Homo sapiens: one gene and its partners. The protein of the gene in region 1 interacts with the protein of each later gene in a biochemical or structural test. Each region holds a gene or a part of one and is shown in the gene's direction. Other genes may lie near its edges.

What was found.
Region 2: the proteins of MUC3A (region 1) and DLG5 interact in a test that uses a peptide from one of them, tested with the Homo sapiens proteins (one large-scale study listed by IntAct).
Region 3: the proteins of MUC3A (region 1) and FRMPD2 interact in a test that uses a peptide from one of them, tested with the Homo sapiens proteins (one large-scale study listed by IntAct).
Region 4: the proteins of MUC3A (region 1) and TJP3 interact in a test that uses a peptide from one of them, tested with the Homo sapiens proteins (one large-scale study listed by IntAct).
Region 5: the proteins of MUC3A (region 1) and PARD3B interact in a test that uses a peptide from one of them, tested with the Homo sapiens proteins (one large-scale study listed by IntAct).
Region 6: the proteins of MUC3A (region 1) and PDZRN4 interact in a test that uses a peptide from one of them, tested with the Homo sapiens proteins (one large-scale study listed by IntAct).
Region 7: the proteins of MUC3A (region 1) and GRIP2 interact in a test that uses a peptide from one of them, tested with the Homo sapiens proteins (one large-scale study listed by IntAct).

Annotation. Positions count from the first base shown.
Region 1 is NC_000007.14:100,959,534-100,963,033, forward strand, and holds part of MUC3A (mucin-3A precursor), read left to right. Parts: coding exon 1-1,112; intron 1,113-1,218; coding exon 1,219-1,404; intron 1,405-2,739; exon of another isoform or gene 2,740-2,782; intron 2,783-3,500.
Region 2 is NC_000010.11:77,920,256-77,923,755, reverse strand, and holds part of DLG5 (disks large homolog 5), read left to right. Parts: intron 1-3,500. UniProt on the Homo sapiens protein: Acts as a regulator of the Hippo signaling pathway.
Region 3 is NC_000010.11:48,240,197-48,243,696, reverse strand, and holds part of FRMPD2 (FERM and PDZ domain-containing protein 2), read left to right. Parts: intron 1-1,344; coding exon 1,345-1,536; intron 1,537-3,204; coding exon 3,205-3,337; intron 3,338-3,500.
Region 4 is NC_000019.10:3,732,384-3,735,883, forward strand, and holds part of TJP3 (tight junction protein ZO-3), read left to right. Parts: intron 1-1,369; coding exon 1,370-1,529; intron 1,530-1,943; coding exon 1,944-2,052; intron 2,053-3,182; coding exon 3,183-3,256; intron 3,257-3,485; coding exon 3,486-3,500. UniProt on the Homo sapiens protein: TJP1, TJP2, and TJP3 are closely related scaffolding proteins that link tight junction (TJ) transmembrane proteins such as claudins, junctional adhesion molecules, and occludin to the actin cytoskeleton.
Region 5 is NC_000002.12:204,551,975-204,555,474, forward strand, and holds part of PARD3B (partitioning defective 3 homolog B), read left to right. Parts: intron 1-3,500. UniProt on the Homo sapiens protein: Putative adapter protein involved in asymmetrical cell division and cell polarization processes. May play a role in the formation of epithelial tight junctions.
Region 6 is NC_000012.12:41,565,820-41,569,319, forward strand, and holds part of PDZRN4 (PDZ domain-containing RING finger protein 4), read left to right. Parts: intron 1-11; exon of another isoform or gene 12-487; intron 488-1,963; coding exon 1,964-2,080; intron 2,081-3,500.
Region 7 is NC_000003.12:14,509,343-14,512,842, reverse strand, and holds part of GRIP2 (glutamate receptor-interacting protein 2), read left to right. Parts: coding exon 1-66; exon of another isoform or gene 67-404; coding exon of another isoform or gene 405-406; exon of another isoform or gene 407-1,150; intron 1,151-1,363; coding exon 1,364-1,430; intron 1,431-1,532; coding exon 1,533-1,678; intron 1,679-2,878; coding exon 2,879-3,023; intron 3,024-3,500.

The DNA of each region.
Region 1 (3,500 bases):
GTCAGCCACTGGGACCCAAACATCTCCTGCACCTACTACTGTCACCTTTGGAAGTACGGATTCCTCCACGTCCACTCTTCATACTCTTACTCCATCAACAGCCTTGAGCACGATCGTGTCAACATCACAGGTTCCTATTCCTAGCACACATTCCTCCACCCTTCAAACAACTCCTTCTACTCCCTCATTGCAAACTTCACTCACATCTACAAGTGAGTTCACTACAGAATCTTTCACTAGGGGAAGTACGTCTACAAATGCAATCTTGACTTCTTTTAGTACCATCATCTGGTCCTCAACACCCACTATTATCATGTCCTCTTCTCCATCTTCTGCCAGCATAACTCCAGTGTTTTCCACTACCATTCATTCTGTTCCTTCTTCACCATACATTTTCAGTACAGAAAATGTGGGCTCCGCTTCTATCACAGGCTTTCCTAGTCTCTCTTCCTCTGCAACTACCAGCACTTCTTCAACCAGCTCCTCTCTGACCACAGCTCTCACTGAAATAACCCCCTTTTCTTATATTTCCCTTCCCTCCACCACACCCTGTCCAGGAACTATAACAATTACCATAGTCCCTGCCTCCCCCACTGATCCATGTGTTGAAATGGATCCCAGCACTGAAGCTACTTCTCCTCCCACCACCCCATTAACAGTCTTTCCCTTTACTACCGAAATGGTCACCTGTCCTACCTCCATCAGTATCCAAACTACTCTTACTACATATATGGACACTTCTTCCATGATGCCAGAAAGTGAGTCCAGCATCTCACCCAATGCTTCCAGTTCCACTGGCACTGGGACTGTACCCACAAACACAGTTTTCACAAGTACTCGACTGCCCACCAGTGAGACCTGGCTGAGCAACAGTTCTGTGATCCCCCTACCTCTTCCTGGCGTCTCTACCATCCCGCTCACCATGAAACCAAGCAGTAGCCTCCCGACCATCCTGAGGACTTCAAGCAAGTCAACACACCCCTCCCCACCCACCACTAGGACTTCAGAGACACCAGTGGCCACTACCCAGACTCCTACCACCCTTACATCACGCAGGACAACTCGCATCACTTCTCAGATGACCACACAGTCCACGTTGACCACCACTGCAGGTTGGACCTTCTGCCTCTCTGTTCCCCTCCTTCCTCCCCTGCAAAATTCCTGTGTCACTGAGGTCAGGCTTTATCCTGAGCTTCCCTTTCTTTCTGTGTTTTCCAGGCACCTGTGACAATGGTGGCACCTGGGAACAGGGCCAGTGTGCTTGCCTTCCGGGGTTTTCTGGGGACCGCTGTCAGCTCCAGACCAGATGCCAGAATGGGGGTCAGTGGGATGGCCTCAAATGCCAGTGCCCCAGCACCTTCTATGGTTCCAGTTGTGAGTTTGCTGTGGAACAGGTGGATCTAGGTGAGTTGCCAGAGCTATGCCTTCTGCACTTCCTCCCACAGGGTGTCACTGACTCTCCCCAGACTTATCCCTCTGTGGGGCCTGGAGGCACCCATGCCTTTTTGCCCGGTCCTTCCCTCCCTGCCATCTCTCCCATGCCCTCCGCTGCCCTGTGTCATGCTCCTCTCCGTCCTCACCCTTAGGAGGTGGCTGGGACTACCCTCCCTCCTGGGCCCATCTCCTGACTTGGGCTGCTTGGAGCTGTATCAGTTTCCAACTGCTGCCGGGCCAACAAACACAAATCTGGCTGCTGGAACAACACGACATTATCATGTTAGAATTCTGTAGATTAGAAGTCTGATGTGGGTGTCACTGGGCTGAAATCAAGGCGTCACCAGGGCTGTGTTGTCTTTCAGCGGCTCCAGGGAAGAATCCATTTTTTTGCCCTTTGCAGCTTCTGGAGCCTCCCACAGCAAGCCTGCATCTCTCTGTGTCTTTCTCCCATAGCCTCATCTCCCTCTAATGAACTCTGGCCTCCTCAATTGCTTCTCCCACTGTTAAGGACCCTTGTGATAACTTTGCCTCCTCCCCAAATAGTCTATGTTAATTTTCTCAAGATCAGCTGATTACGCCGGGCGGGGTGGCTCACACCTGTAATCCCAGCAGTTTGGGAGGCTGAGGGGGTAGGATCACCTGAGGTCAGGAGTTGGAGACTAGCCTGGCCAACATGGTGAAACTGTCTCTACTATTAGTTGGGCATGGTGGCAGATGCCTAAATCCTCACTATTCAGGAGGCTGAGGCAGGAAAATCGCTTGAATCCAGGAGGTGGATATTGCAGTAAAGCGAGATTTCGCCACTGCACACTAGCGTAGATGACAGAGGGAGAGTGAGACTCTGTCTTAAAAGAAAAAAAAAAATCAGCTGATTGTCTTATAATCCCTGCACTTTGGAAGGCCGAGGAGGGAGTATCGCTTGAGGCGAGGAGTTCAGGACCAGCCTGGGCAACACAGCGAGACCCTCATCTCCACAAAAAATTTTAAAAACTTACCTCACGCCTGTAATCCCAGCACTTTGGGAGGCCGAGGCGGGCGGATCACGAGGTCAGGAGATCGAGACCATCCCAGCTAAAACGGTGAAACCCCGTCTCTACTAAAAATACAAAAAATTAGCCGGGCGTAGTGGCGGGCGCCTGTAGTCCCAGCTACTTGGGAGGCTGAGGCGGGAGAATGGCGTGAACCCGGGAGGCGGAGCTTGCAGTGAGCCGAGATCCCGCCACTGCACTCCAGCCTGGGCGACAGAGCGAGACTCCGTCTCAAAAAAAAAAAAAAAAAAAAAAAAAAAAAAAAAAAACTTACCTGGGCATGGTGGCTCATGCCTGTGGTCCCAGTTATTTGGAAGGCTGAGGTGGGAGAATCACTTGAGCCTGGGAGTTCAAGGCTGCAGTGAGCTATGATCCCCCTATTGCACTTCAGCCTGGATGACAGAATGAGACCCTATCTCAACAATAAAAAAAAGTTAGGCTGATTAGCAATCTAATTCAATCTGCACCCTTGATCCTCCCTTGCCATGTAGTATAGCATAGTCACAGTTCTGGGGATTAGGACATGGACATCTTCCCACTATGGGGGCAGCCAGGAGGGACCACAGGCTGACCGCTATCTTTCTGCCTGCTTTCACTCATCTCCACACAATTCCTTCCTTCCTCTCGCTCTCTTCTTTCTTTTCTTCTTTTCTTTTGTCTCTTTCTCTTTTCTTTTTTTCTTTCTCTTTTTCTTTCTTTCTTTCTCTTTCTTTTCTTTCCTTTCTTTTCTTCTTTCCCTCATCTTCACACAATGCTTTCTCCCTTTCTTTCTTTCCTTCTTTCTTTCTCTTTCTTTCTTTCTCTCTCTCTCTCTCTTTCTTTCTTTCTTTCTTTCTTTTTCTCTCTCTCTCTCTATCTTTCTTTTTCATTTTCTTGAGAGACAGTCTCACTCTGTGGCCCAGGCTGGAGTGCAGTGATGCAATCTCGGCTCACTACAACCTCCGCCTCCTGAGTTCAAGTGATTCTCCTGCCTCAGCCTCCTGAGGCATAATGCATCCTGGAATTCCTACATCTGTTCCTGCCTCTGGGCATCAG
Region 2 (3,500 bases), on another chromosome or scaffold:
GACAGGGTCTCACTGTGTCACCCAGGCTGGAGTGCAGTGGCACAATCTCGGCTCACTGCAGCCTCCGCCTCCTGGTCTCAAGCCATCCTCCTGCCTCAGCCCCGCAAGTAGCTGGGACCACAGGCACATGCCACCACACCAGCTAATTTTTGTATATTGTGTAGAGATGGCATTTCTCCATGTTGTCTAGGATGGTCTCGAACTCCTGAGCTCAAGCGATCTGCTTGCCTCAGCCTCCCAAAAGTGTTGGGATTACAGGCGTGAGCCACTGCCCCGGCGCAGGGGAGGCTCCTTTGTGAAGGGTAAATTGCTGTGTTGTAGGTCTCCACTTTTTTGCTTTTTTTTCTTTTAGCCAGGAAGTATTCCTTATGGTCAAAGCTCAGTGCATAAGAGAGCGGCTCTGGCTGAAGGAATGGAAGTCTTCTTCCTTGAGGAGCCATAGTCAGGAAAACCCAGCACTTGGTCCTGCCTCCTTCCACTCCTGAGTGATTTCCACTCTGTGCTCTGGGCAGCAGCTCTGGGTTTGAATTGGCCTCAGTTCGAGGCCATTGCGGAGCCTGAGAGAGGAACCAGCTGGCTCCCTGGGATCCTTAGCGTCAAGGGGTGGCTGCTTTGGCACCGATTCTCTGTTGGAGATGATGCCATCACCCACCTAGGAGCTTCCTTGATGGATTCCACACCCTGTGTGGGCTCCTGATCCAGAATGCCCATCCCCCACTGGCACTTGGGTGCTGAGGGAGTCTGCATCGGCAGCAGCCTACCACGTGGGGCCTGGAACTGGAAGGAAACTGGGGAGGACATGTGCCTGGGTGTTGGTGGGCAGGTGAGCAAACCCAACCCATCGGGGCAACTCTTGCTGAGTTAGATCCCCAGACATTTAAACCTACCACGCTCAGGCCTGGGGGTGTGGAGTGACTAGGAGACACACTGTGTTGTGGTTTTTTTGTTGGAGGTGTGGCTCTTATTCCGGTATTGATAGGGCATTGTCATTCAGGATTTTGTGTCCTATCTTCATATCTCATTAACTCTGTGGCAGCCCCAGGGAGATGAGTGGTGTCTTATGATCTTTGGTTCCAGGGCCCTGTCTGTAAGGAAGAAGTCGCAGGGCAGAAAGGTGCCTGAGTCAAGGCCAAGCCCAGTGCCCCTGATTCCTTGTCTGGGGTGGTTTTTCCTGTTCCCTGGTTAGGCCTTCCCACTACAATTTCAGGACATTTCCAGTCACTGTGGGACTCTGAAATTATGTAGCTTTCTTTTGTCCCGGATTTGATACATGGATCTGCGGGGAACAAGCGAACACCTTTGCCCCAGCTGGTGGTAGGGAGAAGACAGAATTGTTTACTTCTGAGTGGCTCAGTTGGGTCTCTTGTTTTTCCCAGTAACCAAGTCTAGCTTGGTCACTTGGAGCCCCATGCAGTCCTTTGTTTTTTCCCTTTGATTTGGGGAAACACCTGAGTTTTTTCCCTTGAGGATTCTCAACTCCCTGCCCCTGGGGTGAGCCTCAGTATCTTCATCTGTAAGATGGGGCTAATGGTGCTGCACTGCCTGCCTCTGTCACCGGGAGCATTGAAGTGCCTGGCCCAGGTGGGGCTGGGGTGTAGACAGGGGCCGGGGTGCACAGGATGTAATTCTAGTCCGTAGCTTGCCGCCTTGTTGGGGGAATGGGACGCTCATGAGAGTGACATTATGAGACAGGTCAACTGATAGAGATGCACAAACAGGCTTTTTCTTTTATAAAAAACTCGGTATGCTACACACTTTCCCCAGATACTCTCATTCACCTTTAGTGGCTCTCATTACCATCTAAATGTGGGACTCCTCAAGTCATTCCCACCAGGCCTCTATTGGGAGGCAGAAATGGCAGAACTTGGCTGGACCTCTCGCGTGCTCATTGCCTGATGTTTCCTTCTCGTTCCCACTCCCCACACCTCCTGTGCCTCCTCTTTACTTTCCTAGTGAACTGGCTGGCTTGCTTCATCAAACTTAAGAGAATGGAGCCAGCAGCGTCCGCTGGAGAAGCCGAGGAGAGCTTCACGAATGTGCTGGGACTTGGTGTTGAAGTGAAGCTCTGAATGCATGGAGCCATGGAGGGAGGACGTGTGGGCTGCGTAGGCTGGACCGCACAGGCTGAGCCATAGAGAGGAGCCATGTGTTTACCCAGCCTGAGCAGAGCAGGGGTTTGGCCTTGGCTCTGGGTGGAAGGGAATTGGGGATGCAGAGGTAATCTGGAGGACCTTAATGGCTAGGCTGAGTGGGAGGTTTGAATTTAGGCATTGTACACTGTCAGAAATTAGAGCTGGAAGTTTGTTTTTTTTCCCCAAGGGAATAACCCTGCCAGGCTTTTCTAGTGGGACTAATGCAGATGGGTGCTGATTGTCAGGTGTGGGTTATTTATTATTCAGCAGAGGTTGCCTGGCCTTTTGTTCTCTCTCCACTTCCTTCGGGTACCAGCCACCTTTTCTTCATCCCCTCTGCCCTGGAGGGTCAGCAGGGCAAGGGACATAAGTAAAAGCTCCAGCTGTTGTGGTTTTTCTTTTGGTTCTTTTGTTTGTTTATTTACTTATTTTTTAGAGACAGTGGAGTGCAGTGGTGCAATCATAGCTCACTGCAGCCTCAAACTCCTGGGCTCAAGCCATCCTCCTGCCTCAGCCTCCTTAGTAGCTAAGATTACAGGCGCATGCCACCCTGCATGGCTAATTTAGGTGGTTTTAATTGTGTTATTTAAGAGGAAGTGGCAGAGTCATTTGAAATTAATGGTTGAGAAGAGGTTTTTAAGTGAAGGGCAGATTTTATCTGTGTATCATTTCAGGGTACCTTTATTGCAAAATGACAGAAACTTAGCTCAGATCATCTTAGGTAGAAAAAGAGAAATGTATTGACTTAGAATATTCCACAACCTTTGGATGGATGGTGGAAACTGGCCTTTGGGACGTTTGACCTCTTGGATCGATGCTGTGGGCTTTTCCCACGGGTCTGAACATGACCTCAGGCCCCTCTGTTCAGGTTCACAGCCCCTGACCAGGGAAGAAAGGGAGCTCTATCCAATCAGCCCAGGCAGACAAACCTCATGGTAGGATTCTGATTGGTCTGGCCAGTGTTATGTGTCCACATGAGGCCCGGTCACTGTGGCCAGGGCTAGAGGACTAAGACTGGCTCAGCTTTGGCACTGTGCCCAGCAGTGGAACCCCAGGGTAAGGTGATGGGCTACTGTGATTGGCAGCCCATTCCAACACTATGTGGGTTTTTAGAGGGAGGCAGAGCAGTTGTCTAAAGGAAGACAAGCAGCAGCGATGTCACGCAGGTAAAAGAGCAGATGAATGTCCACTCCAAGCATTACCACCTTTGTGCGATAATACAGTTAGCACAGGCGGTCATTGCTGGAGTGGGATGGTGGGTCTAGGTAGTAATGATCAGACCTTACAAGGTTTTAGACCTTGAGCAAGGTTTTTAACCCTTCTGAGCTTATCTCCTCTACAAAGTAATTAAAACACTAACTACTTCAC
Region 3 (3,500 bases), on another chromosome or scaffold:
TAACGCCTCACTGGCCGTGGGGTTGCCTTCTGACTTCTCAGTGAGACACACCTGGAGCCTAGGATAGGGTCCCTGCTCCCGTCTGGTTCCCCTTTGGCACTCTGCCATAATCAGGACCGGCTTCCTGGGTGTGTGTCCTGAGTGTGTGACCCTGTGTCATAGCACAGGGTCCTGCACTTAGTTTAATGCTCTGCTATCACTGTCCTGGAATTCTTAATAATTTTGAACAAGGGACCCCACATTGCTATTTTCCCCCAGGCCCCTGTCCTGCTCATAATCCCCTTCCCTTCAGATGCATGTCAGCTCATCTGCATCTTCGTGCCTTTGTACACACGGATCCCTTCACCAGCACCTCACTCCCCACTTTCCTCTTGGTTAACTCTAGCCTTGGCTAAGCCCCTTCCTCTACATTAGTGCCATGGCCTGTGCTTCCCAAGGTGAAAGTCCTTGTCATCCTCTATGGTCTTTGTCTCTTTTAGTGACCGTCTCTCTCATCACACCATTATTTTCCTGAAGGCAGGGACTGTATCTGGTGTGGCTGTGCAGCACCAGGCACAAAAGACGCCTGGATTTACTGTGACGGCAGGACTCAGCAGCTTGGCTGTACACAGAGATAGGTGCTCACAGCTGATGCTCCCCAGCAAGAAGCGGTAGTGCAGCCTTTATCTGGAAAGTGACCTGCAGTGTGTGTTGAGCTTGAGAAAAAGTCTGATTTTGAATCTGAATTTGAGGACTTTCTCCTATGAATTGTGGTCATTTAAATGCATGAGGGAAATGCTTATAAGATGCTTCTGTTTTCTTTTGCTCGATGTGTACACGTGACATAAAGTTCAACCAACAACGATTGAGCATTTGTGCTGACTGCTGGCTGTTCCGAAGTGAACAGGAATAGGCCACAGTCTGTATGTTCCAGGAGCTCACATTCCAGGGGAAAGGCCAAGTGAGACCCCCTGAGTGATTGGATACAATGACAAGCTACGCAGGTGAACTTGAGTGAAAGGCTGACCTCTGGTTTGATTTGGGGTGCTTGGCACAGGTGGAAATCCATCTTGTCAAAGCATCTAGTTTTCATGAGCATTCCAAGCATGTGCTTGGGCAGAAGGATGTTCTGGTTTAGAAAGCAGCAGACAACACAGAATTGCTGCAGAGATGATTGCTCCGCACTTTGCGGCCTCAGTGATGGATCTTGTGTCTGTCCTTAAACTCTCCAGAAGGGGCAGGCATCTGCTCTGGTGCTTGTGGGAACACCCGTTTCCATGTCTCCAAGGCCTGCCTGACAAGGTGCTGGCCTCGTAGTGGCAGCTCTGGCTGCTCTCTCCTCTCACCGGCCCTGTCTGCCTCCAGCCCCTGCAGCTCTGCGAGCCCCTGCACTCCATCCTGCTGACCATGTGTGAAGACCAGCCTCACAGGCGGTGCACGTTGCAGTCGGTTCTGGAAGCTTGTCGGGTTCATGAGAAAGAAGTGTCTGTCTACCCAGCCCCTGCTGGTCTCCACATCAGAAGGCTGGTTGGCTTGGTTCTGGGTACCATTTCTGAGGTCAGTAGAGAACCGTGCTTTTCAAGCAGTAGCTGCTGGTCATGTGTGGCTATTAAAATTTGAATTAGTTATATTATCATTAACTAAAATAAAATAAAAAATTAAATTAATCAGTCACATCTGTCACATTTCAAGTGCTCCGTTGCCACTCGTAGCAGGTGATGACCCTATTGAACAGGGTGGATCTAGAACATTCTTGTCATTGCAGTTCTATTGGGCAGTGCTAACAAAGACCTTTAGGCAAGCCCCAGTTTGTCACATGGCTAAGACCCTTGACATCTTTGCAAGTGCGTCCTTACATAAAGCAATAATGTTTAGAACCCATGATTCAGTTTTCTTATCAAAATTCAACTCTAGGTTCTGCACAGAAGCCTTCCCCGACTTCGTTTTTGTGGTCCCTGGGTACCCTCCCCTCTGCTATTTTATACCTGTGGGGTGTCCTTTGTTGTGCTTGTCACACTGTGCTGCTTGCTGCCCTGTGCACTCCACAGAGTGCAGCAAGGGGCCTGGCACATGGGAGGCATTTGGCTTAGGTTGGATTCCCTCCAAGCTAACCCAGAGACAGGGATTCTTGTGCAAGTTATTTACTGGGGAAATGTTCCTGGGAGAGGGGAGTGATGGTAGTACAGCTGACAAGTTGAAGGATATAGTCTCAGCTGGAGACAGGCCCAGCCTGGCCCCCTGGGGAGCTCTGTTGCAGGAATGGCACCATGGAGTTGGTCCCCCATGAGACCTGAGTGGAGCTGGGATAGGATGGGCAAGTGAGGTGCCTATGGCACAAAATGTAAGGAAGTTTGTATTTGGGAGGAACCAGAGACAGGTAAGCTAGAGGCCAGTTGAGTGGCTGCACTTGTCCAGGGACAAGTTGGAGAGCTGAGAGCAGGATTAATGAGGGCCAAAGTGGATGGAGATGTGGGGACAGCAGGGTGGACAGCGGCAACAGTCAATCAGAGAAGGCCTCTGCCATCAGAGAAGGCCTCCTTCTTGGACCCCTTCTCTCTTGGCATAGGAACATGTGGCTCCTATGAATTGAGCCAGAGGATTTGGTGGGGGAAATGGACTATATTTATTTGAAAGATACTGAGGTCTACCATCCACTGGTGTGCCATTGTCCTTGGATAGACAGTGTACTGACCTGCAACATTTCCGTCAGGGATCTGCAAGGTAGATGTCAGTCACGTATTCAACATTCATTGGGCACTGCATTAGGTGTGCTACGGTGGTGCATAAAGCACACAGAGATGTTGGGGGAGACAGACAAGCAGCACACTCATGGAACATGATGCAACAGAGCCAGGTGTGAGTGCAGTGATAAGGGAAGGTGATCAGACGGCAGAGGTAGAGAGGCTTAGAAGTAGAAAGCACACAGCTCTGGGTCTTGTGGGCACAGAGGAGCTTCTGGGGAGGCTGTAGCCATGGAGGGAATGCATGAGCAAAGGCACAGATGTGTGTGAGTGTGCAGGTCTGGAGTGGGGAGTGAAGTGCCTTCAGGGTGCATGCAGGGGGTGGGCACAGAGCACATTCTGGGTGCCAGAGAACACATCTTTAGGTCACCGTATAGGGCAGACAATTCCACATTGATTCAGTCTGACAGCCAGTTTGCATGTATCTATAAAAACGCCCCCTCCTTATCTTGGGATGTGGATGTGTGATGCACTTGACCCCCAGGTGGAGAAAAGAGTTGTGGAGGAAAGCTCCTCTGTGCAGCAGAACAGAAGCTACCTGCTCAGGAAGAGGCTGCGTGGGACAAGCAGCGAGAGCCCAGCGGCACAGGCCCCGGAGTGTCTGCATCCTTGCAGAGGTGGGTACGTGCCCTAAGCAGTCCCTGCGTGGGCTGATGGTACCCATTCTATTTTTTCCTGCCCTGTATGGGCTACACATCCACATTGTGATGGCAGAGAAAGCCTATGTAAGTGCCACTCTTTCAGGAAGCCCCTGAAGAGAAGGGGCTGAGCTTAGGACTC
Region 4 (3,500 bases), on another chromosome or scaffold:
TGCCCTGCCCTAAAGGATGGTATCTTTCTGGATTCTTCCCCTGAAAGTCTGTTTCTAGTGACTCCTAGTGTTTGATTTCCAAATTGCTTTCAGCTGATTATTTCCAGTGTCTTCAAAAAGTTATCTGTTTCTTTTTTTTTTTTTCAGACAGAGTCTCGCTCTGTCACCCAGGCTGGAGTGCAGTGGCGCAATCTCGGCTCACTGCAACCTCCGCCTCCCAGGTTCAGGTGATTCTCCTGCCTTAGCCTCCCGAGTAGCTGGGATTACAGGTGCCCGCCACCACACCCAGCTAATGTTTGTATTTTTAGAAAAGACGGGTTTCTCCATGTTGGCCAGGCTGGTCTCGAACTCCTGACCTCAGGTGATCCCCCCCGCTCGGCCTCCCAACGTGCTGGGATTACAGGCGTGCACCACCACACCTTGCTAATTTTTTGTATTTTTAGTAGAGACGGGGTTTCTCCATCTTGGTCAGGCTGGTCTCGAACTCCCGACCTCAGGTGATCCATCCGCCTCGGCCTCCCAAAGTGCTGGGATTACAGGCATGAGCCACCACACCCGGCCGACATTAAGTTCTTTCTAGGAATTGTGTGTTTCTAATCTACCTCTAGATGACTGTTTTCTTTTCTCTTTTCTTTTCTCTTCTCTTTTTTCTTTTCTTTTCTTTCTTTTTGATATGGAGTGTCGCTCTGTCACCCAGGCTGGAGTGCAGTGGCGGGATCTTGGCTCACTGCAACCTCCACCTCCCGGGTTCAAGTGATTCTCCTGTCTCAGTCTCCTGAGTAGCTGGGACCACAGGCGCCCACCACCACGCCCTGCTAATTTTTGTATTTTTAGTAGAGACAGGGTTTCACCATGATGGCCAGGCTGGTCTTGAACTCCTGACCTCAACTGATCTGTCTGCCTCTGCCTCCCAAAGTGCTGGCATTACAGGCGTGAGCCACCGCGCCCCACTCTAGATATCTGTTTCTAGTTATCTCCCAGAAGATTGTGTGTTTCTAGTATCTTTTAAGTATCTGATACTCCCTCTTCTCCAGTTAGAGTTGTTTATAATGTCACCCTCACATCTGTTCCTAGTATCCCCTGAGACATTTCCACTTTTGGTAAGAAAGGAGAGTCAACCTGTTTCTCATTTTCCCCAGTGTCTCCCACCCCTCTTAGAACATTTTCTGTTTCTAGAATTCGGTGCTCAGTTCTTGGTGTGGTCTCCACTCACAGCAGGAATCCAATTCAACACTTTCCTTAGGGAGTGGCTGTTTTTAGCAACCTCTGGGGGAATTGTCTGTTTCAAGTTCCCCCACACCAGGCTGTTTCTACTGTCTCCCATCTCTCATTAACTCACTTCCGCTCTTTCATTCCTGGTCCCTTTCAGATCAACGGGGTGTCTAGCCAGAACCTGTCACTGAACGACACCCGGCGACTGATTGAGAAGTCAGAAGGGAAGCTAAGCCTGCTGGTGCTGAGAGATCGTGGGCAGTTCCTGGTGAACATTCCGCCTGCTGTCAGTGACAGCGACAGCTCGCCATTGGAGGGTGAGGACCTAGAGGTTAGGACCTGGGAGGGGGTTGAATGGATGGCAGGGAAGGTGGGAAGCCCCAGGCAGGGCCAAGGAATCAATGAGCCTGGTCCCTAGAGGCTCAGAGAGTGACAGGAACTTGCTGAAGGCCACACAGCAAGTCAAGAGTTCAGGGGGGCGATCTCGGCTCACTGGGTTCAAGCGATTCTCTGCCTCCTGGGTTCGAGCGATTCTCGTGCCTTGGCCTCCTGAGTAGCTGGGATTATAGGCGTGAGCCACCGTGCCCAGCTCCAGAGCCGAATCTTCTAACTGAGCTTCTGACTTTGGTCTAGGGCCCTTTGTTTAGAGGGGTGTTGATATACCCCTCTGTAAAATGGGTCCAGTCCAGAAGGCGTGACCATGGCTGATGAGATGTCCTCTCCCCCTGCAGACATCTCGGACCTCGCCTCGGAGCTATCGCAGGCACCACCATCCCACATCCCACCACCACCCCGGCATGCTCAGCGGAGCCCCGAGGCCAGCCAGACCGACTCTCCCGTGTAAGTATCACCCATCGGCCAGAATGGTGATAGGGAGGGAGAGGGAGGTGGGAGGGAGAGGGGAACGCGGGCGTAGCTTTCCAACTGGGGGTAACCTTGAGGACGCAGTCCTGTATTTCTAGCATGTGCCTCAAAATACCTCCAGCCTCTACCCATTACCCAGTTCCAAAGCCGTGTCCGCATTTGTAGGTGTTGGTTACAGCAGCACCCCACTTCTTAGTATCAAACTCTGCCTTAGGCCAGGTGCGGTGGCTCACGCCTGTAATCTCAGCACTTTGGGAGGCCGAGGAGGGTGGATCATCTGAGGTTAGGAGTTCGAGAACAGCCTGGCCAACGTGGTGAAACCCTGTCTCTACTAAGATACCAAAATTAGCCCGGCGTGGTGCCGGGTGCCTGTAAGCTCAGCTACTTGGGAGGCTGAGGCAGGAGAATCACTTGAACCCAGGAAATGGAGGTTGCAGTGAGCCGAGATCGTGTCATTACACTGCAGCCTAGGCAACCAGAGCAAAACTCTGTCTTAAAAAAAAAAATTTCTTTTTCCTCTATTTATTTATTTGTTTTGAGACTGAGTCATGTGAGACTGGCTAATTTTCATATTTTTGGTAGAGATGGGGTCTGTATTGCCCAGCTATGTTGCCCAGGCTGGTCTTGAACTCCTGGGCTCAAGCATTTGGCCTGCCTCAGCCTCCCAAAGTGCTGGTATTACAGGCGTGAGCCACCACGCCCAGCCCAGATAAATTAAAATTATTTTTATTTTGTTTATTTATTTATTTATTTTTTTGGAGACAAGGTCTCACTCTGTCGCCCAGGCTGGAGTGCAGTGGCATGATCTTGGCTCACTGCAACCTCTGCCTCCCGGGTTCAAGCAATTCTCCTGCCTTAGCCTCCTGAGTAGCTGGGATTACAGGCGCCCACCATCATGCCCGGCTAATTTTTGTATTTTTGGAGAGACGGGGTTTAACCTCGTTGGCCAGGCTGGTCTTGAAATCCTGACCTCAGGTGATCTGCCCACCTCGACCTCCCAAAATGCTAGGATTACAGGCATGAACCACCGTGCCCGGCCTAAAATTCTTTTTAAAATGGCCCCTTGAAATCCATCCCTGCCTCACTCCCAATCTGTTCCCCACCAGGGAGAGTCCCCGGCTTCGGCGGGAAAGTTCAGTAGATTCCAGAACCATCTCGGAACCAGATGAGCAACGGTCAGGTGGGTGGTGACTCTGAGCACCCCTGTCCCTGACATTTCTGATCCCTGACAGCAAGGCTGTGCCAGGCAGAGCTGGGGGAGGTTGGCCTGAGCCTAAGTGGTGAGACATGGTTTCCTGAGAAGGACTCGAGGTGGGTGACAGTCCTTCCAGGATGAGGACATAAAGCAAAGGTTTGGAGGCTGGACTGAGCCAGTGTGCTTGGGAAAGAGACTGGCTTTTCCCTTTCAGAGTTGCCCAGGGAAA
Region 5 (3,500 bases), on another chromosome or scaffold:
CCACTAGACATATGTGGTTGTTAAGTAGTTGAAATGTGCCTAGTGCAACTGAGGAACTGAATTTTAAATTTTAATTTAAATGTAAATCGCCACAAATGGCTTGCCTTAGTGGACAGTTCAGATCCAATGCTCTTCTGATGGGTTCTGTCAGCTGCTTTTGGAAACCACTGGCTTAAAGACCAGATCCCAGGCAGTCCTTAACTTGACATTGCTACTCAGTTCTGTTGAGAACTTTGCCATCAGAAAGGGATCTTCAGCCACTCTTTGGTATCCACAGGTGGTAGAGAGAGCCTTTAAACCTTAAATGCTCCACCTAGACACTAGCACAAAAACTAGCTGGGTTTGAGAGTAAGCCCAGGTTGGCCTCAGTTTACACCTTTGGTGCAACAGGCTGAGGATGTACATCCTCTGTCTCTGGTACTGGGTGGAGAGTGGGCCAAGAAGGAGCAGTGAACAAAAATCTGGGCCATTTTTAGTGAGATTTAGATGCTTCTCGACTGATAGAAATACTAAACACCTTCAGTTCAATTAAGTCCCAGCTATTTATCTTTGCTTTTATTGCATTTGCTTTTGGGTTCTTGGTCATGAAATCCTTGCCTAAGCCAATGTCTAGAAGGGTTTTTCCAATGTTATCTTACAGAATGTTGTAGTTTCAGGTCTTAGATTTAAATCCTTGATCCACTTTGAGTTGATTTTTGTGTAAGGTTGAGAGGTGAGGATCCAGCTTCATTCTCCTACATGTGGCTTGCCAATTATCGCAGCACCATTTGTTGAATAGGGTGTCCTTTCCCCACTTAATGTTTTCGTTTGCTTTGTTGAAAATCAGTTGACTGTAAGTATTTGGGTTTATTTTTGGGTTCTCTATTTCTGTTCCAATGGTCTATGGGCCTATTTTTATACTAGTACCGTGCTGTTTGGTGACTATGGTCTTATAGTATAGTTTGAAATGAGAGCTTTTCCATGGCAAAAGGAACAGTCAGCAGTGTAAACAGACAACCCACAGAGTGGGAGAAAATCTTTGCAATCTATACATCTGACAAAGGACTAATATCCAGAATCTACAATGAACTCAAACAAATTAGCAAGAAAAAAACCAAACAATCCCATCAAAAAGAGGGCCAAGGACATGAATAGACAATTCTCAAAAGAAGATATAGAAATGGCCAACAAACAAGAAAAAAATGCTCAACATCACTAATGATCAGGGAAGTGCAACTCAAAATCACAATGTGATACCACCTCACTCCTGCAAGAATGGCCATCATCAAAAAATTTTAAAAAAATAGGTGTTGGTGTGGATGTGGTGAACAGTGAACACTTCTGGTTGGAATGTAAACTAGTACAACCACTATGAAAAATAGTGTGGAGGTTCCTTAAAGAACTAAAAGTAGAACTACCATTTGATCCGGCAATCCCACTACTGGGTATCTACCTAGAGGAAAATAAGTCATTATATGAAAAAGATACTTGCACATGCATGTTTAGCAGCACACTTTGCAACTGCAAAAGCGTGGAACCAACCCAAATGCCCACCAGTCAACGAGTGGGTAAAGAATCTGTGGGGTGTGTGTGTGTGTGTGTGTGTGTATATATATATATGTATATATAAGGCTATATACATATATATGTATATATATGGCTATATACATATATATGGATATATATTTATATATATCCATATATATATATATATATATATATATATATATATATATATATATACACACATATATATAAAGGAATACACCTCAGCCATTAAAAGAGAGACTGAATTAATGGCATTTGCAGCAACCTGGATGAGATTGGAGACTATTACGGCAAGTGAAGTAACTCAGGAATGGAAACCCAAACATTGTATGTTCTCACTCATAAGTGGGAGTTCTCACTGACACAAAGGACTTCAGGGACTCAGGGAGAAAGGGTGGGAAGGGCATGAGGGATAAAAGACCACAAACTGGGTGCCGTGCATACTGCTCAGGTGATGGATGCACCAAAATCTCACAAATCACCACTAAAGAACTTAGTCATGTAATGAATCACCACCTGTTCCCCAATAATTTATGGAAATAAAAAAATTTTAAAAATACTAAACATCTTAAGCACATGCTTCCTGGAACCTACACTCTCCTGACTTTTTTCCTATCTATTGTCCATTCTCAGGCTCTTTGGTTGTTCCTTCTTTCCTCCTCTACGTCTTAGCACTACAGTACCCCAGGACTCAATTCTTAAGTCTCCACCTGTCTCTCTCTGCTTACAGTAATGTGGTTCCAAATACCACTGGGGTAGTTCCAGCCCAGGTGTCTTCCCTGAACTGCCAGCTCTATATACGGCTTTCTTGACCCTTTGCCTGGACATCTGGTAGGCATCTTACACTTATAGCATGCCCCCAAATGAATTCCTAATCCCCAACTCCAAATCAAGTCCTCCTACAATCTAAGCATGTCATTAAATGGCAAGGCCATCTTTCTAGCTGTTCACCAGAAATGCTTGTCATCACCCTTGACCAATGTTTTTCTCTCATGATCCACATACAGTCATTCTGCAAATCTGGTTGACTCTGCTCTCATACTAGATTTGGAATCTGACTACTTTTCAGTCTCTTTCCTGTTAGTATACTGGAGCTTGATTTTTATTATTTTTTTCTTTAAATAGACTTTAGTGTCTCCATTTCTGCCCCCGAGACTCCCACATTACTGTCTCTCCTTAACACAAAAGCTAGAGTGATAATTTAAAATTATAATCAGGTCATGTCATTCTTCTACTGAAGATCTTCCAATGGTGCACATCTCTCCTAAATGGCCTTGGAAGTGCTACATGATCTGACTATCTGTGCAGAAAAAGTTAATGTAGCAGGCCTGAGACTGCTATCCTTAGAAAGCCCTGCTTGCGAAGCGGGGCCTTGGCTGGTGGCATCTGGAAAGTTAGATTTGTGGAGGGCTACCATCATTCCCTTATCGGAATGGCTCACTGTGCAAAACTGTTTCTGCAAACAATATGGCTTATGCTGAACACCTGCTCTTTTTCTGGGAGTCTGGAATTTTTGTATATGCTAAGCAGAAGGTGCCTATGTGATCAGTCTGCAGTAAAAACCTTGGGTGCTTAGTCACTAATGAGTGTTCCTGGTAGGCAACATTTCGCACATGTGGTAAGAACTCACTGCTGGGGGAATTAAGCAAGTCCTCTCCACTAAGGGAAGACCCTTGGAAGCTTGTGCCTGGTTTCCTGCAGACTTCGCTCTGAATGCCAGTTTGTTTTGCTGATTTGGCTTTGTATCTTTTCACTAATAAATTATATCCATGAAGGGCCTGGTACGGTGGCTCACACCTGTAATCCTAGCACTTTGGGGGCTGAGGTGGGCGAATCACCTGAGCTCAGGAGTTCAAGACCAGCCTGGGCAACATGGTGAAACCCCGTCTCTACTAAAAATACAAAAATTAGCCAGACGTGGTGGCACACACCTGTAATCCCAGCTACTTGAGAGGCCGAGGCAGGAGAATTGC
Region 6 (3,500 bases), on another chromosome or scaffold:
GTAGCCACTACCTTTGAGACAGTGTAGGTTGTTCCTTTTTCTGAGATGCCACATGTGGCCCCCTTTGGTGCAGATAGATCCCCACTCTTAGTAGTAACAATCCCTCTTTTCCTGCAGCTCAGCTCAAGGGAGATGTCTGTCTCTGCCGTTACATTAGACTCAGACCATAGTGAATGTACATCTAGGTAGAAAGGGGGAAATAGGAGAGAAGAAGGAAGTGAGCAAGAAGAATCTCCCTTTGCTAATTGTGCTGTGTGCACCTCCAGCCTAAAAGAAAGCCTTATCAAAATAGACATATAATGACTATGGCTGGCAACTCAGGAATCTACTGGATTACTCAATAAGAAAAGAGTTATGGGGAATCATTAATTTTGACCATTTTCTCTTTATTTTCCCCACTACTTCATTTAATCCTCAAAGGACTCTGTTTCATCATTCAATATATCAGTGTTAGAAAATACTTTATTTTGACCTGATTAAAGAAAAATTCCTTGATGTGTTTGTGAATAGTAAGCACTCCCCATTTTAAGTAATTTTTTATGATGTCTGGCATTTGTAGCTTTATGATACTTGAAAAAGATTAAAGAATGTAAAATTTGAACAATTATAAATTGGGCTGAATTTACATTTTTACTTGGCATAATTTTCATAGCTCATCTGCATATCAAAGTCACAGGAATTTGATCAAATTATTCAGGCGACATTAAGATAAATGAGGATGAACAAATGTGCCAGCACTTTGGGCCCCAGTTAAGTTTGAGGTCATTTAAGTTCTACATGGCCTTTAATAGATATCATGAAATCTATGATTTGCCTGCATATTAATAAAGATGATACCTGTATGCTAATGCCTCTTTTGGTGCAGCTGAATGTCCTTTCCAGTTTGTTTTTAAGTTGTAGAAGTTCAGTTATGTTTAAAAGCTTATTTTGCCAGTTCATTGGTGGTGAAAATATCTCAAACTATTATCCATGTTTGCTCACTAGAATGCTATTTCTTTGTACAGGGTGATGCAGAGTTTTGACGATAATCCAGTTAATTTAATCAGCATAGACAGCTAATTTATGTAATCCAGCTCCAAAAATCCACTTTGAGGCAAATTATCTGTAGTAACTGTCAACACTGATCATATTAGATCATATTAGCCAGGTAACCACCAGTTTTCCACTTCACTTTGTATTGAAAAGCCGAAGGGATTTGTTCAGTTCAATTTGCATTAAGAGTCCTACAAGAATACTTGTTTTCAACACCCATAAACAAAACCCTGCATGCCCCACACCACTCCACCACCCTTAAATGTCGCATCCACTGAGGTGTTTTTCCTATAAAATTGGGCCTGAAAACAAATTAAAATAGACATGGAGTAATATTGCTTTTCTTTCCTTTCCTTGAGAAGAATAACTTAGAATTTTCCTTTCTTCACAGACAAAATAAATGTCTTCTGTACATTCTTTTGTGGCAAGCAGCCATCTTGTTGACATGGGAGCCCACCTAAAAAGAAAAAAGCAGGATGAGGATAGCACGAGCGTATGGGGGGAACTTTGTGTGCAGTCTCGTTGGGGGTTGTTGTTAAAGAAAACAGCCCAATTGTCTCATAGCCCAATTAGTAGCATGGCAGTCCTTTTAACACGGGACTGTTGGAGGTAATGAGCATGACAGCTGTGGATTATGCAGGATGCTTTTCATACATTTTGAAAGAAGGTAATATTCTGTGCTGTGAGATTTACTTGGTTATGAGAGAAAATCTGTAGTCCCATTTCAGGAAAGGATAAAAGGCATAAGAGTCCTTTTTTTTTTTTTTTATCACCTTTTCTTCTTTCTGAGAGGTGAACTGTGGGAGGCTGGTATTCTGAAGAGAATCATTATGATAAAAGGAACTCGTCGGGCACCGGCCATTTAAGTTTACTCTATTTTAACATGAGTTCTCACTAACATAATATAATGTACTAATGTATTCTTTTGCAGCTGGATGAAGGCTGGCTGGAAGATGAAAGGAATGAATTCTTAGAGGAGTTAAACTTGGAGATGTTGGAAGAAGAGCATAATGAAGCAATGCAGCCCACTGCCAATGAGGTGGAGCAGGTAGGGCCAACAATTTGAACTACATCATTTGATATGTTGCTTGTTCTTTTTTTAATGTGTAACCATAAATGAAGATGAAAACAAAATCAAAGGGTTTAATCCATCATCTCTATCATGGTAATTTTTTAGAGCAAATGATCATCTCAAATGAAGCAGAGGGAATAAATAAAATGTTTTTCCATTAAGAATATATCCAGTTTGGGAAGCTTGGGGACAATTGTTAATACAGTACAGTAGTATTCAAATGTTGACCCAGGCACTACTTCAAACTAATTGCAGAAATTTAAGAGTAAAAAATGTGTGTTGCTTATCAATATGCCAGCTGAAAACAAACTGAGGTAGCTTCCCCAATAAGTAATTTTTTTTACTCTAAAATATTAATGTATCTATTTGAATACTTAGGCTATCACTATAGGATGAAGATGACATGATGTAAGCCATCAGTTTTATTTGCGTACTGGATGGCGTGATTACACCTGTATATTCTGAATAATCGTAGAGATTATCCTTGGTCTTATGGCTGCTGTTGACACATTTCCCATAGTATAACTTGTGCAACATTTCTCATAGCATAGTTTGAGATTATTAACATCATTTTGCCTTGAAGTCACATATTCATTCAACTAAACACTTTGAACTCCTAATATGTTCCAAGTACCCCACTTGAAACTGAGAATAAAAAGAAAAATGAGCAGAACTGCTGTCCTTAATGGATTCATAACTAGTAAAAGATCACAGTGTGATTAGTATATTATTTTTATTGTCTTTTTCCCATTTTACAAAAACAAGTTCAATGTATTCTAGATTTTTTATGTTACACTCATGTCATTTATCTGCCTGATATAATTTTGTTTTCAGTTTACTGATTTGTTTAATTATCTTCCTATTCTCAACATTATTATATGTATTTTATTATATATATATATACGGAATCTTGCTCTGTCGCTCAGGCTGGAGTGCAGTGGCACAATCTCAGCTCACTGGAACCTCCGCCTCCCGGGTTCAATTGATTCTCCTGCCTCAGCCTCCTGAGTAGCTGGGATTACAGATGCCCACCACCATGCCCAGCTAATTTTTGTATTTTTAATAGAGACAGGGTTTCACCATGTTGGTCAGACTGGTCTTAAACTCTGACCTCGTGATCCACCTGCCTCGGCCTCCCAAAGTTCTGGGATTACAGGCATGAGCCACCGTGCCCTGTCTATTCTTATTATTATCATTATTATTATTATTATTTTAAGATAGAGTCTCACTCTGTCGCCCAGGCTGGAGTGCAGTGACACAATCTCAGCTCACTGCAACCTCTGCCTCCTGGGCTCAAGCGATTCTCCTGCCTCAGCCTCCTGAGTAGCTGGGACTATAAGTGCACGCCATCATGCTCAGCTAATTTTTGTATTTTTAGTACAGATGAGGTTTCACC
Region 7 (3,500 bases), on another chromosome or scaffold:
GCAGTGGCACCTTCCACGTGAAGCTGCCCAAGAAGCGCAGCGTGGAGCTGGGCATCACCATCAGCTGTGAGTCTCCTCCCGCTGCTGTTTGCCCCTGGGAGCGAGCTCAACTGCTGGGGAAAAAGAGCTTGCCAAGCTCAGACCAGCATTTCCATGGCGTGACACCCTGCGGGGCCCGAGGAAAAGGCTTGGGGGTGTGGGGAGGCTGGCTTCCGTGGACCCAGCTGCGTGTTCTCAGCGAGACCCCAGCTTCCCAAAGCTTCAGCTTCCCGTTCTGCACCATGGCAGTCCCCTGGCCTCGTGGGTCTCCCAGGGGGCTTGTGAGGTGCCCATGGTGAGAGAGCATTGGAAGGTGACAAATATTTAGGCTGGGTTTGGTTTTCTGCCTGCTTCTGTGTTCTCAGAGCCCAGCAAAGGCCTGGAACACAGTAGGTGCTTAATTCATGTTTGTCAAAGGAATGAAAATGAGGAATGCAGAAGAAAAACGTAGAATGGGTGAGCATGGGAAAGGTGAAAGCACTCCCGTGGCTCCCATCTTATTCTGAGTAAAAGCTGAGGGCCTCGGGCCCCAGTGAGGCCCTCTGTGCTCTGGACCCCATGACCTCTGACCTCATCTCCCGACTCTCCCCAACTCAAGCCCTCCAGCCGCAGTCAGCCTGGCTGCTCCCTGCCATGCCTGCCCCTTCCTGCCTCTGGGCCTTTGCATCTGAGACCGTTCCTCTGGCCTCTTCCCTACCTCCTTCATGGCTTTGCCCAAATGTCACTTGACAAGGCCTTCCCCGACCACCTGACTGAACATTTACCGCCCTCGACACAAGCCCGTTTCTCAGGTTTCTCCACAGCTCACTTCATCGGTGTTTAAATGTTGTTGATTGTGACCACCACTGGAGTGCCAGCTCCAGGAGGGCAGGGAGAGATTGCTGTCTGTTTTGTTCACTTCTGTGTCTCCCACCCCCAAGCACACAATAGAGCCTGGGTGCTGGCCCTGAGCCCGGTGCTGGGGACACAGACACCAAGCAGACAGCCCCCCTCCACAAAGAGCTCGCAGTTTGCTGGGGGATGGGCTGAGCAGGAGGAAAGAAGAGCTGGCATTGGAAGGGCCATGCTGGATCTTGTGCCTGTGTTATCTGGTTTACTCTCACCACATCCCCATGAGGTCTGCGGTGCCACCCCCATTTTACAGGGGGGAAACTGATGCACAGGGAGGTGAGCTGATTTGCTCACGGTCACCCAGCCAGGAAGCAGTGGGACCAGGATGTGAGTAGGACCAGTGGCTCCGAGTCCACACTCAGACCCCTGGGCTTCGCCACCCCACCCCAGGCTGAGGCCACCAAGGTCAGATTCATGGCCTCTTTTTCTCCAGCGGCCAGCAGGAAACGAGGGGAGCCCTTGATCATCTCCGACATCAAGAAAGGCAGCGTGGCACACAGGTAGGGGCACTGGGGCACAGGAAGGGAAGTGGCCAACAGCAGTGAGTATGGCACCTGCATGCACCAGGCTCCTTCCATCCCCTCTGCCCCCGACTCATGCAGGACGGGCACCCTGGAGCCAGGCGACAAGCTACTGGCCATTGACAATATCCGCCTGGACAACTGCCCCATGGAGGACGCCGTGCAAATCCTGCGGCAGTGCGAGGACCTGGTGAAGCTGAAGATCCGGAAGGACGAGGACAACTCTGGTATGGCCCTCATGCTGGCCTCCTACCTCCAGAGGCCCACCCTTTGACTAGCGGGTTCCCAGCTTGCAATTCAGGGCTCCCTCCAGCCGAGGAAGGGAGGGTGGTGGGCGCTGCTGAAGGCTGGCTGGAATGAACAAATGAAGGAGGGGGCAACACCACAGATTTCTCACTGTCCCCGGCGTCTGGGGCCCTCCAGAGCCTCTGTGAGGTGGACAGGAGTTTGAGACTCTCCCGTAGTCTCCACATCTAGCACCAAGCCTGGCAGAGGAGACCTACTGGGTGCAGCTGGTGCAGCTGGTGGAGAGATGAGTGGGTAGGGCAGGGGAAGAGCGAGGCTGCCCTTTTGAGTGGCAGGCTATGAGTGGATAAGCAAAGACTGCAGACTCAGGCCCCACTGACGCCAGATAGTGATATAAATGAGTGAGAAAAGCTGTATGGATTGGAGAGGCAAAAGGGACGGGTGAGGACTGCGCCAACTGGAAAGTGAATCCCTGATTCAAAGGGGCAGCCTCCAAATCACCAACTCCGACTCTGTGAAAGAAGGTTACTGTGGGAGGTAGATTTCTTTTCTTTTCTTTTCTTTTCTTTTAAGAAAAGTTGGGCCAGGTGCAATGGCTCATACCTGTACACCCCTCACTTTGGGAGGCCAAGGTGGGTGGAGCACTTAAGCCCAGGAGTTCGAGACCAGCCTGGGCAACATGGCGAAACCCCATCTCTACAAAAAATACAAAAATTAGCTGGGTCTGGTGGTGCATGCCTGTAGTCCCAGATACTTGGGAGGCTGAGGTGGGAGGATCACTTGAACCCTGGAAGCAGAGGTATGGCAGTGAACTGAGATCGTGCCATTGCACTCCAGCCTGGGCAGCAGAGCAAGACTCTGTCTCAAAAAAAAAAAAAAAAAAAAAACAACGGATGATCGGGGTTCCCTTTGCTTCCTGCTGGCTGCTGGAGGAAAAGAGGCCACTGTTTCTTGTCATCAATGTTGTCATTATTGTGGGTGAGGTGTGATGTTTCTTTTCTTTACTGGTATTTGGGCAGAAGATGGCCTCAGGGTCCCCAGGTTGTGCTACATGAAATCAGAGCGTGAGTGACTGGGTGAATGAATTAATAAATAAGTATGAGTGAGTGAGTGAGGCCAAGGCTTTAGGAAGCTGGGTACCCCCTCGGGGGCCTCCTCCTCATGGGTCCCCGTGCTTGCAGATGAGCTGGAGACCACAGGTGCCGTCAGTTACACAGTGGAGCTGAAGCGCTACGGGGGTCCCCTGGGCATCACCATTTCGGGCACGGAGGAACCTTTTGACCCCATTGTCATCTCAGGCCTCACCAAGCGTGGCCTGGCTGAGAGGTGAACTGGGGCTCTGTGGGGACGCATGGTGGGCTCAGGGAACACAGGAAGCAAGAGCTGGGGCTATGGCAAAGCCAAGCAAGATTCTGACCTCTGTTCCAACATTGACACTGTGGGTGACATTGGGCCAGTCACTTCCCCTCTCTGAGACTCAGGTCTGCATTTGTAAAATGAGTGTCAGCCCCTGCCTGCCAGGGCAGAGGCCCACACCCCAGCAGACCTCCTGGCTCCAGGTAAGCACTGGGCCAAGGTGTGTGCATCTTCCTGCTCCTACCTGTGTCTGGAAGGTCAGCCCTGCAAGGCTATTTGGAGCGCCTGCTGTGTGCGGAATAGGATGGGGCAGTGCCCCAGTACCCTGGTCCCAGCACTGCCTAGGGCTTTCCTGAGGCATTGGGGGACTGTCCCTGCTGCCCCTAGACTCTGAAACTGTGGCAGCTGAGGGAGCTGTAAGAATGGAGCCCTGTCCCAGGGTGAGGT